2 linked regions of the Homo sapiens genome follow. The protein of the gene in region 1 interacts with the protein of each later gene in a biochemical or structural test. Each region holds a gene or a part of one and is shown in the gene's direction. Other genes may lie near its edges.

What was found. The genes of interacting proteins can lie anywhere in the genome.
Region 2: the proteins of ATXN2 (region 1) and SH3GL3 form a complex in vitro, tested with the Homo sapiens proteins (one study listed by BioGRID).

The regions. Positions count from the first base shown.
Region 1 is NC_000012.12:111,589,246-111,596,349, reverse strand, and holds part of ATXN2 (ataxin-2), read left to right. Parts: intron 1-7,104. UniProt on the Homo sapiens protein: Involved in EGFR trafficking, acting as negative regulator of endocytic EGFR internalization at the plasma membrane.
Region 2 is NC_000015.10:83,450,341-83,457,340, forward strand, and holds part of SH3GL3 (endophilin-A3), read left to right. Parts: intron 1-7,000. UniProt on the Homo sapiens protein: Implicated in endocytosis. May recruit other proteins to membranes with high curvature.

The DNA.
Region 1 (7,104 bases):
GTGATTTATTTTGTTCTTTGTTATATATATTTTTGAAGGTGGCTGTTTTAGGAAAGATAATGTAATCACAATATTAGAACATAATTTTACTGTAATCTAATTTTGTGTGTGTGTGTGTGTGTGTGTGTGTGTGTGTGTGTGTGTTTTGGATGGAATCTCACTCTGTCGCCCAGGCTGGAGTGCAGTGGCCTGATCTCAGCTTACTGCAGTCTCTGTCTCCTGGGTTCATTTAAGTGATTCTCCAGCCTCAGCCTCCCCAGTAGCTGGGATTACAGGTTCGTGCTACCACACCTGGCTAATTTTTTTGTATTTTTAGTGAGGACGGGATTTTGCCATGTTGGCCAGGCTGGTCTCGAACTCCTGACCTCAAGTGATCCGCCTGCCTTGGCCTCCCAAAGTGCTGGGATTACAGGCGTGAGCTACTGCCCCTGGCCAATTTTTGTATTTTTAGTAGAGATGGGGTTTCACCATGTTGGCCAGGCTGGTCTCGAACTCCTCCTGACCTCAAGTGATTCGCCAGCCTCGGCCTCCCAAAGTGCCAGGATTACAGGCAGGAATGAGCCACTGCCCCCAACCATCAGTCTAATTCTTATTTTTGCTTTTTACCTTTTCATTTTTATGTAGTAGAGGTGATTGTGTATGTTATTTTGTAGTTAGCTTTTTTCCCCTGAACGTTGTATTGTAAATGTAAATTTTTTTTTTTTTTTTTGAGACAGAGTCTCGGTGTTTGCCCAGTCTGAAGTGCAGTGGTACGATCTCAGCTCACTGCAGCCTCTGACTCCTGGGTTCAAGCGATTCTCCCACCTCAGCCTCTTGAGTAGCTGGGGCTACAGGAATGTTCCACCACGCTTGGCTAATTTTTGTATTTTTGGTAGAGACAAGGTTTCACCATGTTGGCCAGTTTGGTCTCGTACTACCGACCTCAGGTGATGCGCCCGCCTCGGCCTCCCAAAGTGCTGGGATTGCAGGCGTGAGCCACTGCGCCCGGCTGTAAGGTTTTTACTTAACCATTCTATTGTTGGGAATTGGGTTTCCACTTTTTTGTTATAGATAGTGGTGCAGTGAACATTTTTAAATAGCTTTTTGCTTCAGTGTAATTATTTCCTTAGAGAAAGTTACCAAGAGTGGTTTTACTAGTTCAGAGGGCTTCAGGATTTTTATGGCTCTTGCTAGCGGTGCTCTATTATTCTTTAGAAGACTTGTATTACTTCCAGTGTCAAGAAGGTTGCTCTTCCATGGAATGGTTTCTTTGTAGTTTGTCAAATATTGTGGGGAATTTTTAAAGGAAAAATTGCATTTTTACTGTCAAGTGCATATATTATTAAGTGCTTTTGTTAGTTACTGGATTATTGATATTTGAGTTTAATTTGGTTCCTCTGAGGATTTAATAAGGTAATATATGTGAAGATGTTTTGAAACCTGTAACCATTATTATTAATGAGGGTACTTGGTTTATCTGTCGTGCTGATAGTACTGAGTAAAGTGCAGGAATGAAATTCCTGAGGAACTGTTCTAAAGCTTTGTTGTTGTTGTTAACCTTTCTTTTTCATCTGAAAGTGTTTTTTATTAGCTGCTAGCCTATGACCAAGTTATTTTTGGTAACTTTTTTGTAATTTCATGGCACTATTGGGAATTTTCGCTGGTTGACTCTTCTTCTTCTACATTCCCTTCCCCATTAAAAATAAAAATATGGATTTACAATTGTTACTCTATTCCTAAACCTAAATAATATGACATTAGAATTGCTTGGGATACAGGATTCAGTCTGAATAAAATATTTTTCTTTTAGTGATTTTCAGCTTAGTATTTTTACTGCTTCTTTCTCTTGAGGCATTGCAACTTAAAAATTGTGCTGTTTAGCCAGGCGCCTGTAATCCCAGCTACTTGGGAGGCTGAGGCAGGAGCATCACTTGAGCCCAGGAGGCGGAGGTTGCAGTCAGCTGAGATTGTGCCACTGCACTCCAGCCTGGGAGACAGAGTGAGACTCTATCTCAAAAAAAAAAAAAATGTGCTGTGATTTAATGTAGTTGTTCATCATGCTTCCATTTAAATTTCAGTGAGACTGTTCATCTTTTGCAGTTAAATATCTTGTAGAAGGGCCTAAAATATCTACGTTGAATACAGCTTTATTGAAGCATCTATGTACATGGGGTTTTTGGGATGAATCAGTGAATAAAGCAAACATATTGTCCTTTTGGAGTTTACATTCTAATGTGACTAGGCAGACAATGAGACATTAAATTACCAGCCTATGTATAATAGTGTATAAGAGCTATGGAATTAGAAGAAAGCAGATTAAAGGTATAGGGAGTGTGGGGAGGGGAATGAGTTACAATTTTAAATGGATTGGGGGAACTTAATTGAGGAGCTAACATTTGAGCAAAGATTTGAAGGTTGGGTATTTAGCCGTTTGCTTTTTATCTAGGTTAATTAGTCATGTGGCTTCATTAGTAATTTATAAGGTTTAAATGGCATCATCCTTTGTTATTCTTTTATGTGCACATTGATACTAACCATCTCTGAAGTTAGACCAAAAAAGTTAATTGACATTGAGGGTCATTAGAGGTAAATTGTAGATGGCTATTACTAACCAAAGAGACATGTTTTGTTTTTCTTTTGGGCTTACGTATTTTACCTAATTAGTTTAGTTTTTGTTTCAAGTATGTGGAGAAAATAAACTTTTTAAGTTTGGGCCAAAACTTGCTTTGGTTTTCTTTTTCTTTTTCTTTTTTTTTTTTTAAGAGAAAAATGTAAGCCTGTAGTTGCTTAAAGATTCCACATTCTGAAACAGTGAAAACATGGGATCAGTCATGGTGTTCCTTTTTTTGGTTAAATGTAAACTTGTATTTTCAGTGTTACTCTAATTAGCAATGGTTTATACTTCTACATAAGGGATGTTAACTCATATTGTAGCTATTTAATAGCCATATATTTTGACTTAAAGGAGGATCTCAAGGCCAGGCGCGGTGGCTCATACCTGTAATCCCAGCACTTTAGGAGGCTGAGGCGGGTGGATCACCTGGGGTCAGGAGTTTGAGACTAGTCTGGCCAACATGGTGAAACCCCCATCTCTACTAAAAATACAAAAATTAGCCGGGCATGGTGGTGGGCGCCTGTAATCCCAGCTTCTTGGGAGGCTGAGGGAAGAGAATTGCTTGATCCCGGAGGTTGCAATGAGTGCGGAGGTTGCAGTGAGCTGAGATCATGCCATTACACTCCAGCCTGGGCAACAGAGCGAGACTCTGTCTCAAAACAAACAAACAAACAAAAAAAGGAGGATCTCATTTTTTTGTCCTAAATAGCTACAGCCGTGTTAGAACTGTCACCTTAGCAAAGTATTGTTTTTTTACTTTGAAACGAATTTTAAGGTTTTAGAAGATTGTTCTCTAGAATTACAATTTTCTGTTTTGACTAGTGATAGTATTTTGATGTTGTGTAAATAGTTGAGCATGAACAAAACCCTATTTTTTTTTTTAGCTATTTCAAGTGATTGTGACAACTTCAACGGAGATGTAAACAGTTTATTAACAGTCACACCTATTATCTTTTTTTTTTTTTTTTTTTTTTGAGACGGAGTCTTGCTCTGTCGCCCAGGCTGGAGTGCAGTGGCACGATCTCTGCTTACTGCAACCTTTGCCTCCCGGGTTCAAGTGATTCTCCTGCCTCAGCCTCCTGAGTAGCTGGGTCTACATGCGCACACCACCACGCCTGGCTAATTTTTGTATTTTTAGTAGAGACAGGGTTTCACCATGTTGGCTAGAATGGTCTCAAACTCCTGACCTCAGGTGATCCACCTGCCTCAGCCTCCCAAAGTTCTGGGATTACAGGCATGAGCCACCGTGCTTGGCCGCTGCCGTATCTTTTTAAATGAAAGTACTTGTGTTTTTTTTGTTTTTTTCCAAAGGATATCTGGGTCATCTATGATGTTACTGTTACCATCTAAGGGTTTTTTTGTTTGTTTTTGAGACAGAGTCTCTGTCGCCCAGGCTGGAGTGCAGTGGCGTGATCTTGGCTCACTGCAACCTCCGCCTCCCAGGTTCAAGCAATTCTCCTGCCTTAGCCCTCCCGAATAGCTGGGATTACAGGCACCCGCCACCATGCCTGGCTAAGTTTTGCATTTTTAGTAGATATGGAGTTTCACCATGTTGGCCAGGCTGCTCTTGAACTCCTGACCTCAGGTGATTCGCTTGCCTCGGCCTCCCAAAGTGCTGGGATTACAGGCGTGAGCCACCCCCGCCCAGCCTCATGAGCTAAGGTGTTTTTTTTTTTTTTGAGACAGTTTTGCTCTTTCCCAGGCTGGAGTGCAGTGGTGCAATCTCAGCTCACTGCAACCTCTGTTTCCCGGGTTCAAGCGATTCTCCTGCCTCAGCCTTCTGAGTAGCTGAGATTACAGGTGCCTGCTACCCCACTCAGCTAATTTTTGTATTTTTAGCAGAGACAGGGTTTCACCATGTTGGTTAGGCTCATCTCGAACTCCTGACCTTAAGCGATCCACCTGCCTTGGCCTCCCAAAGTGCTGGGATTATAGGCATGAGCCACCGTGCGCAGCCTACCCTGTCTCTTAAAAAACAGTAACAACAACAACAACAACAAAAAATCCTAAATCTTAAAAATGGAAGGCAAAAACTCTAAGCTTTGAGAGATTAGGGGACTTGCCCAAAGCAATATTTGTAGGATTTTATTACACCTCTCCCTTTATTTATTTTTTTAGAGTCAAGGTCTCCCTCTGTCACCCAGGCTGGAGTGCAGCCTCAATCTATGGGGCCAAGCATTTCTCCTGTCTTAGCCTCCTGAGTAGCTGGAACTACAGGTGTACACCAGCTGGCTAACATTTAAATTTTTTGTAGAGACAGGGTCCTGCCATGTTGCCCAGATTGGTCTCAAACTCCTGGGCTCAAGTGATCCTCCTGCCTCAGCTTCCCAAAGTGCTGAGATTACAGGTGTGAGCCACTGCACCGAGCCCCCTCCCTTTATTTTTATTTTTAAATTTTAAGTTCTGGGGCCCCTCCCTTGAAATAAATAGAAACGTAATATATACACAAGATCATGCTGTGTATTTTAAGGCAATGGTCCTCAACCTTTTTAACACTAGGGACCGGTTTTGTGGAAGATGGTTTTTCCATAGGGGCAGGGGATGATTTTGAGATGAAACTGTTCCACCGGCCGGGCACGGTGGCTCACGCCTGTAATCCCAGCACTTTGGGAGGCCGAGGCGGGCAGATCACGAGGTCAGGAGATCGAGACCATCCTGGCTAACATGGTGAAACCCCCCTCTACTAAAAATACAAAAAAATTAGCTGGGCGCGGTGGAGGGCGCCTGTAGTCACAGCTACTCCGGAGGCCGAGGCAAGAGAATGGCATGAAACCCGGGAGGCAGAGCTTGCAGTGAGCTGAGATAGCACCACTGTACTTCAGCCTGGGGGACAAAGTGAGACTCCGTCTAAAAAAAAAAAAATTGTTCCACCTCAGATCATTATGCATTTGTTAGATTCTCATAAAGAGCATACAACCTACATCTCTTGCTATATGCAGTTCCCAGTAGGGTTTGTGCTTCTATAAGAACCTAATGCTGCACCTGATCTAACAGGTGGGGCTCAGGTGCTAATGCTCACACAGCTCCTGTTGTGCAGTCTGGTTCCTAACAGGCCTGTTTTTTTTTTTTTAATTAGATGGAGTCTCGCTCTGTCACCAGGCTGGAGTGCAGTGGCACGATCTCAGCTCACTGCAACCTCTGCCTCCCGGGTTCAAGCGATTCTCCTGCCTTAGCCTCCCATGTAGTTGGTACTACAGGCGCACACTGTGATGCCCAGCTAATTTTTGTATTTTTAGTAGAGACGGGGTTTCACCATGTTGGCCAGGATGGTGTCGATCTCCTGACCTTGTGATCCGCCCAACAGCCTCCCAAAGTGCTGGAATTACAGGCGTGAGCTGCTGCGTCCGGCCCCCTAACAGGCTTGTTTTATGGAATACAGTCACGGACAGTACTTGCCCTTCAGGATATCTTTTTGTAACCTTGATTTTGGCTTGCTAAAATAGGAGGTCTATTTTCTTTTCTTTGTTTTTAATGTATGTGGTTCTGTACTTACGTGGTGTGAAATCTACATAAATGTTAAATCCTTGGTTATTTATTTATTTTGAGACAGAGTCTCACTCTGTCACCCAGTCTGGAAAGCAGTGGCATAATCTCGGCTCACTGTAACCTCCACTTCCCAGGTTCCAGTGATTCTCCTGCCTCAGCCTCCTGAGTAGCTGGGATTACAGGCATGCACCACTACACCTGGCAAATTTTTGTATTTTTTTTTAGTAGAGATGGGGTTTCACCATGTTGGCCAGGCTCGTCTTGAACTCCTGACCTTAGGTGATCTGCCTGTCTTGGCCTCCCAAAGTTTTGGGATTACAGCATGAGCCACTGCGCCTCGCCTTATTTTTTTGAGACAGGTTCTAGCTCTGTCACCCAGGCGGGAGTGCAGTGGTGCCATCATGGCTCATTGCAACCTCGAGTTCTCAGGCCCAAGTGATCCTCCTATCTCAGCCTCCTGAGTAGCTGGGACCACAGGCATGCGCCACTATGCCCAGCAAAATTTTTGTTTCACTCTGTTGCCTAGGGTGGGGTGCAGTGGCAGGATATCGGCTCAGTGCAACCTCTGCCTCTTGCGTTCAAATGATTCTCATGCCTCAGCCTCCCGAGTAGCTGGGATTATAGGCATGCGCCACTACACCTGGCTAATTTTTGTATTATTGGTAGAGATGGGGTTTTATCATGTTGGCCAGGCTGGTCTCGAACTCCCGACCTCAGGTGATCCATATACCTTGGCCTCCTGAAGTGCTGGAATTACAGGCATAAGCCACTGCGCCTAGCTTTTTTGTTTGTTTTTATTTTGTAGGGACAGAGATTTTACCTGTTGCCCAGGATGGCCTTGAATTCCTGACCTCAAACAATTTGCCCTCCTTGGCCTCCCAAGGTGCTGGGATTACAGGTGTGAGCCACTATGCCTGGCTGGTTTTTTAAATTATTATTATTGTTTGTGTGTGTGTGTTGCAGGATCTTACCCTGTCACCCAGGCTGGAATGCAGTGATGTGATCTCGGCTTACTGCAACCTCCG
Region 2 (7,000 bases), on another chromosome or scaffold:
CTGAAATTCTTAAGTAAGTTAAGCATTTCAGAGTAAGACAAAGATGATAAAGTGGACCTTTTACAGAGAAGGGATCCAGGACCATGGCAAACTGAGATAGTTTTCTGAAAGATAAGCGAGGTAAAATTAGCTATAACCCGGTTAACTGTTCCTTTTTTCCTGATACCTTCCCTATCTCTGGGAAAAAACCCCTACTTTACAGAGAATGAAGACTCGTAAACCCTGGGGATTATGCATCATTTTGGCAGCACATGGAGACCAACAGGAAAGAGGAAGAAATATGCTAAAATGAGAAGAATATAAGTTAACAAAAAAATTTAATTAATTCTAAGTTTCAGCGTTTGAGACTAGAACCCAAATTTTTCTTTTTTTTTTTTTTTCTAATATGCATTATCCTTTATTAAAATGGGATATTTTTCTTTTTTTTTTTTTTTAAGGTTATAGATTTTCTTTTTTTTTTTTAATTTTTTTTTTTCTATTATACTCTAAGTTTTAGGGTACATGTGCACATTGTGCAGGTTAGTTACATATGTATACATGTGCCATGCTGGTGCGCTGCACCCACTAAAGTGTCATCTAGCATTAGGTATATCTCCCAATGCTATCCCTCCCCCCTCCCCCGACCCCACCACAGTCTCCAGAGTGTGTTATTCCCCTTCCTGTGTCCATGTGATCTCATTGTTCAATTCCCACCTATGAGTGAGAATATGCGGTGTTTGGTTTTTTGTTCTTGCGATAGTTTACTGAGAATGATGATTTCCAATTTCATCCATGTCCCTACAAAGGACATGAACTCATCATTTTTTATGGCTGCATAGTATTCCATGGTGTATATGTGCCACATTTTCTTAATCCAGTCTATCATTGTTGGACATTTGGGTTGGTTCCAAGTCTTTGCTATTGTGAATAGTGCCGCAATAAACATACGTGTGCATGTGTCTTTATAGCAGCATGATTTATAGTCCTTTGGGTATATACCCAGTAATGGGATGGCTGGGTCAAATGGTATTTCTAGTTCTAGATCCCTGAGGAATCGCCACACTGACTTCCACAATGGTTGAACTAGTTTACAGTCCCACCAACAGTGTAAAAGTGTTCCTATTTCTCCACATCCTCTCCAGCACCTGTTGTTTCCTGACTTTTTAATGATTGCCATTCTAACTGGTGTGAGATGATATCTCATAGTGGTTTTGATTTGCATTTCTCTGATGGCCAGTGATGGTGAGCATTTCTTCATGTGTTTTTTGGCTGCATAAATGTCTTCTTTTGAGAAGTGTCTGTTCATGTCCTTCGCCCACTTTTTGATGGGGTTCTTTGTTTTTTTCTTGTAAATTTGTTTGAGTTCATTGTAGATTCTGGATATTAGCCCTTTGTCAGATGAGTAGGTTGCGAAAATTTTCTCCCATGTTGTAGGTTGCCTGTTCACTCTGATGGTAGTTTCTTTTGCTGTGCAGAAGCTCTTGAGTTTAATTAGATCCCATTTGTCAATTTTGGCTTTTGTTGCCATTGCTTTTGGTGTTTTGGACATGAAGTCCTTGCCCACGCCTATGTCCTGAATGGTAATGCCTAGATTTTCTTCTAGGGTTTTTATGGTTTTAGGTCTAACGTTTAAATCTTTAATCCATCTTGAATTGATTTTTGTATAAGGTGTAAGGAAGGGATCCAGTTTCAGCTTTCTACATATGGCTAGCCAGTTTTCCCAGCACCATTTATTAAATAGGGAATCCTTTCCCCATTGCTTGTTTTTCTCAGGTTTGTCAAAGATCAGATAGTTGTAGATATGCGGCATTATTTCTGAGGGCTCTGTTCTGTTCCATTGATCTATATCTCTGTTTTGGTACCAGTACCATGCTGTTTTGGTTACTGTAGCCTTGTAGTATAGTTTGAAGTCAGGTAGTGTGATGCCTCCAGCTTTGTTCTTTTGGCTTAGGATTGACTTGGCGATGCGGGCTCTTTTTTGGTTCCATATGAACTTTAAAGTAGTTTTTTCCAATTCTGTGAAGAAAGTCATTGGTAGCTTGATGGGGATGGCATTGAATCTGTAAATTACCTTGGGCAGTATGGCCATTTTCACGATATTGATTCTTGCTACCCATGAGCATGGAATGTTCTTCCATTTGTTTGTGTCCTCTTTTATTTCCTTGAGCAGTGGTTTGTAGTTCTCCTTGAAGAGGTCCTTCACATCCCTTGTAAGTTGGATTCCTAGGTATTTTATTCTCTTTGAAGCAATTGTGAATGGGAGTTCACTCATGATTTGGCTCTCTGTTTGTCTGTTGTTGGTGTATAAGAATGCTTGTGATTTTTGTACATTGATTTTGTATCCTGAGACTTTGCTGAAGTTGCTTATCAGCTTAAGGAGATTTTGGGCTGAGACGATGGGGTTTTCTAGATAAACAATCATGTCGTTTGCAAACAGGGACAATTTGACTTCCTCTTTTCCTAATTGAATACCCTTTATTTCCTTCTCCTGCCTGATTGCCCTGGCCAGAACTTCCAACACTATGTTGAATAGGAGCGGTGAGAGAGGGCATCCCTGTCTTTTGCCAGTTTTCAAAGGGAATGCTTCCAGTTTTTGCCCATTCAGTATGATATTGGCTGTGGGTTTGTCATAGATAGCTCTTATTATTTTGAAATACGTCCCATCAATACCTAATTTATTGAGAGTTTTTAGCATGAAGGTTGTTGAATTTTGTCAAAGGCTTTTTCTGCATCTATTGAGATAATCATGTGGTTTTTGTCTTTGGCTCTGTTTATATGCTGGATTACATTTATTGATTTGCGTATATTGAACCAGCCTTGCATCCCAGGGATGAAGCCCACTTGATCATGGTGGATAAGCTTTTTGATGTGCTGCTGGATTCGGTTTGCCAGTATTTTATTGAGGATTTTTGCATCAATGTTCATCAAGGATATTGGTCTAAAATTCTCTTTTTTGGTTGTGTCTCTGCCCGGCTTTGGTATCAGAATGATGCTGGCCTCATAAAATGAGTTAGGGAGGATTCCCTCTTTTTCTATTGATTGGAATAGTTTCAGAAGGAATGGTACCAGTTCCTCCTTGTACCTCTGGTAGAATTCGGCTGTGAATCCATCTGGTCCTGGACTCTTTTTGGTTGGTAAACTACTGATTATTGCCACAATTTCAGAGCCTGTTATTGGTCTATTCAGAGATTCAACTTCTTCCTGGTTTAGTCTTGGGAGAGTGTATGTGTCGAGGAATGTATCCATTTCTTCTAGATTTTCTGATTTATTTGCGTAGAGGTGTTTGTAGTATTCTCTGATGGTAGTTTGTATTTCTGTGGGATCGGTGGTGATATCCCCTTTATCATTTTTTATTGTGTCTATTTGATTCTTCTCTCTTTTTTTCTTTATTAGTCTTGCTAGCGGTCTATCAATTTTGTTGATCCTTTCAAAAAACCAGCTCCTGGATTCATTGATTTTTTGAAGGGTTTTTTGTGTCTCTATTTCCTTCAGTTCTGCTCTGATTTTAGTTATTTCTTGCCTTCTGCTAGCTTTTGAATGTGTTTGCTCTTGCTTTTCTAGTTCTTTTAATTGTGATGTTAGGGTGTCAATTTTGGATCTTTCCTGCTTTCTCTTGTAGGCATTTAGTGCTATAAATTTCCCTCTACACACTGCTTTGAATGCGTCCCAGAGATTCTGGTATGTGGTGTCTTTGTTCTCGTTGGTTTCAAAGAACATCTTTATTTCTGCCTTCATTTCGTTATGTACCCAGTAGTCATTCAGGAGCAGGTTGTTCAGTTTCCATGTAGTTGAGCGGCTTTGAGTGAGATTCTTAATCCTGAGTTCTAGTTTGATTGCACTGTGGTCTGAGAGATAGTTTGTTATAATTTCTGTTCTTTTACATTTGCTGAGGAGAGCTTTACTTCCAACTATGTGGTCAATTTTGGAATAGGTGTGGTGTGGTGCTGAAAAAAATGTATATTCTGTTGATTTGGGGTGGAGAGTTCTGTAGATGTCTATTAGGTCTGCTTGGTGCAGAGCTGAGTTCAATTCCTGGGTATCCTTGTTGACTTTCTGTCTCGTTGATCTGTCTAATGTTGACAGTGGGGTGTTAAAGTCTCCCATTATTAATGTGTGGGAGTCTAAGTCTCTTTGTAGGTCACTCAGGACTTGCTTTATGAATCTGGGTGCTCCTGTATTGGGTGCATAAATATTTAGGATAGTTAGCTCCTCTTGTTGAATTGATCCCTTTACCATTATGTAATGGCCTTCTTTGTCTCTTTTGATCTTTGTTGGTTTAAAGTCTGTTTTATCAGAGACTAGGATTGCAACCCCTGCCTTTTTTTGTTTTCCATTGGCTTGGTAGATCTTCCTCCATCCTTTTATTTTGAGCCTATGTGTGTCTCTGCACGTGAGATGGGTTTCCTGAATACAGCACACTGATGGGTCTTGACTCTTTATCCAACTTGCCAGTCTGTGTCTTTTAATTGCAGAATTTAGTCCATTTATATTTAAAGTTAATATTGTTATGTGTGAATTTGATCCTGTCATTATGATGTTAGCTGGTGATTTTGCTCATTAGTTGATGCAGTTTCTTCCTAGTCTCGATGGTCTTTACATTTTGGCATGATTTTGCAGCGGCTGGTACCGGTTGTTCCTTTCCATGTTTAGCGCTTCCTTCAGGAGCTCTTTTAGGGCAGGCCTGGTGGTGACAAAATCTCTCAGCATTTGCTTGTCTATAAAGTATTTTATTTCTCCTTCACTTATGAAGCTTAGTTTGGCTGGATATGAAATTCTGGGTTGAAAATTCTTTTCTTTAAGAATGTTGAATATTGGCCCCCACTCTCTTCTGGCCTGTAGGGTTTCTGCCGAGAGATCCGCTGTTAGTCTGATGGGCTTTCCTTTGAGGGTAACCCGACCTTTCTCTCTGGCTGCCCTTAACATTTTTTCCTTCATTTCAACTTTGGTGAATCTGACAATTATGTGTCTTGGAGTTGCTCTTCTCGAGGAGTATCTTTGTGGCGTTCTCTGTATTTCCTGAATCTGAACGTTGGCCTGCCTTGCTAGATTGGGGAAGTTCTCCCGGATAATATCCTGCAGAGTGTTTTCCAACTTGGTTCCATTCTCCACATCACTTTCAGGTACACCAATCAGACGTAGATTTGGTCTTTTCACATAGTCCCATATTTCTTGGAGGCTTTGCTCATTTCTTTTTATTCTTTTTTCTCTAAACTTCCCTTCTCGCTTCATTTCATTCATTTCATCTTCCATTGCTGATACCCTTTCTTCCAGTTGATCGCATCGGCTCCTGAGGCTTCTGCATTCTTCACGTAGTTCTCGAGCCTTGGTTTTCAGCTCCATCAGCTCCTTTAAGCACTTCTCTGTATTGGTTATTCTAGTTATACATTCTTCTAAATTTTTTTCAAAGTTTTCAACTTCTTTGCCTTTGGTTTGAATGTCCTCCCGTAGCTCAGAGTAATTTGATCGTCTGAAGCCTTCTTCTCTCAGCTCGTCAAAATCATTCTCCATCCAGCTTTGTTCTGTTGCTGGTGAGGAACTGCGTTCCTTTGGAGGAGGAGAGGCGCTCTGCGTTTTAGAGTTTCCAGTTTTTCTGTTCTGTTTTTTCCCCATCTTTGTGGTTTTATCTACTTTTGGTCTTTGATGATGGTGATGTACAGATGGGTTTTCGGTGTAGATGTCCTTTCTGGTTGTTAGTTTTCCTTCTAACAGACAGGACCCTCAGCTGCAGGTCTGTTGGAATACCCTGCCATGTGAGATGTCAGTGTGCCCCTGATGGGGGGTGCCTCCCAGTTAGGCTGCTCGGGGGTCAGGGGTCAGGGACCCACTTGAGGAGGCAGTCTGCCCGTTCTCAGATCTCCAGCTGCGTGCTGGGAGAACCACTGCTCTCTTCAAAGCTGTCAGACAGGGACACTTAAGTCTGCAGAGGTTACTGCTGTCTTTTTGTTTGTCTGTGCCCTGCCCCCAGAGGTGGAGCCTACAGAGGCAGGCAGGCCTCCTTGAGCTGTGGTGGGCTCCACCCAGTTCGAGCTTCCCGGCTGCTTTGTTTACCTAATCAAGCCTGGGCAATGGCGGGCCCCCCTCCCCCAGCCTCGTTGCCACCTTGCAGTTTGATCTCAGACTGCTGTGCTAGCAATCAGCGCGATTCCGTGGGCGTAGGACCCTCTGAGCCAGGTGTGGGATATAGTCTCGTGGTGCGCCGTTTCTTAAGCCGGTCTGAAAAGCGCAATATTCCGGTGGGAGTGACCCGATTTTCCAGGTGCGTCCGTCACCCCTTTCTTTGACTCGGAAAGGGAACTCCCTGACCCCTTGCGCTTCCCAGGTGAGGCAATGCCTCGCCCTGCTTCGGCTCGCGCACGGTGCGCACACACACTGGCCTGCGCCCACTGTCTGGCACTCCCTAGTGAGATGAACCCGGTACCTCAGATGGAAATGCAGAAATCACCCGTCTTCTGCGTCGCTCACGCTGGGAGCTGTAGACCGGAGCTGTTCCTATTCGGCCATCTTGGCTCCTCCCCTCAGAACCCAAATTTTTCAAGTGCATAGTTAAATATTTTTTCTCTTGACAAGATTTTTTTGATAGAGCTGTTTACTCTTCTGGTAGAGATGTAGCTTGAGCTATTATAAATAAATACAAATAGCATAGATATGGCATTGTGGTTTCTTGTTAAACGTGGTACCTCACCAATAAAAATATAGCTTACAATATTTACATTTGTGTTACCACTCACTGATTTGTATTTGTATGCTTATTTCATAGTAATTTTTCTTGACAGCATTTATTGTTGAAGAAGGAAGTTCAGGGCACACCTATGTGTGTTCTGACCTGGAAAGTACTAATAGTCATATTCTTTCCATTTCTGGACCTTCTTGTCTTCCAGGGTCCTTGTTCTGCATCCCATAAAAGTCCAGGGACCAGTTTCATCTCTTCTCCTCCTCTCCTTCTCTCCCAAGACTAACCATCTACTGATGACACTTGTGGGCTCCATGTTAAATTTACTTCTTTATGCCTTTTAACTTCTGT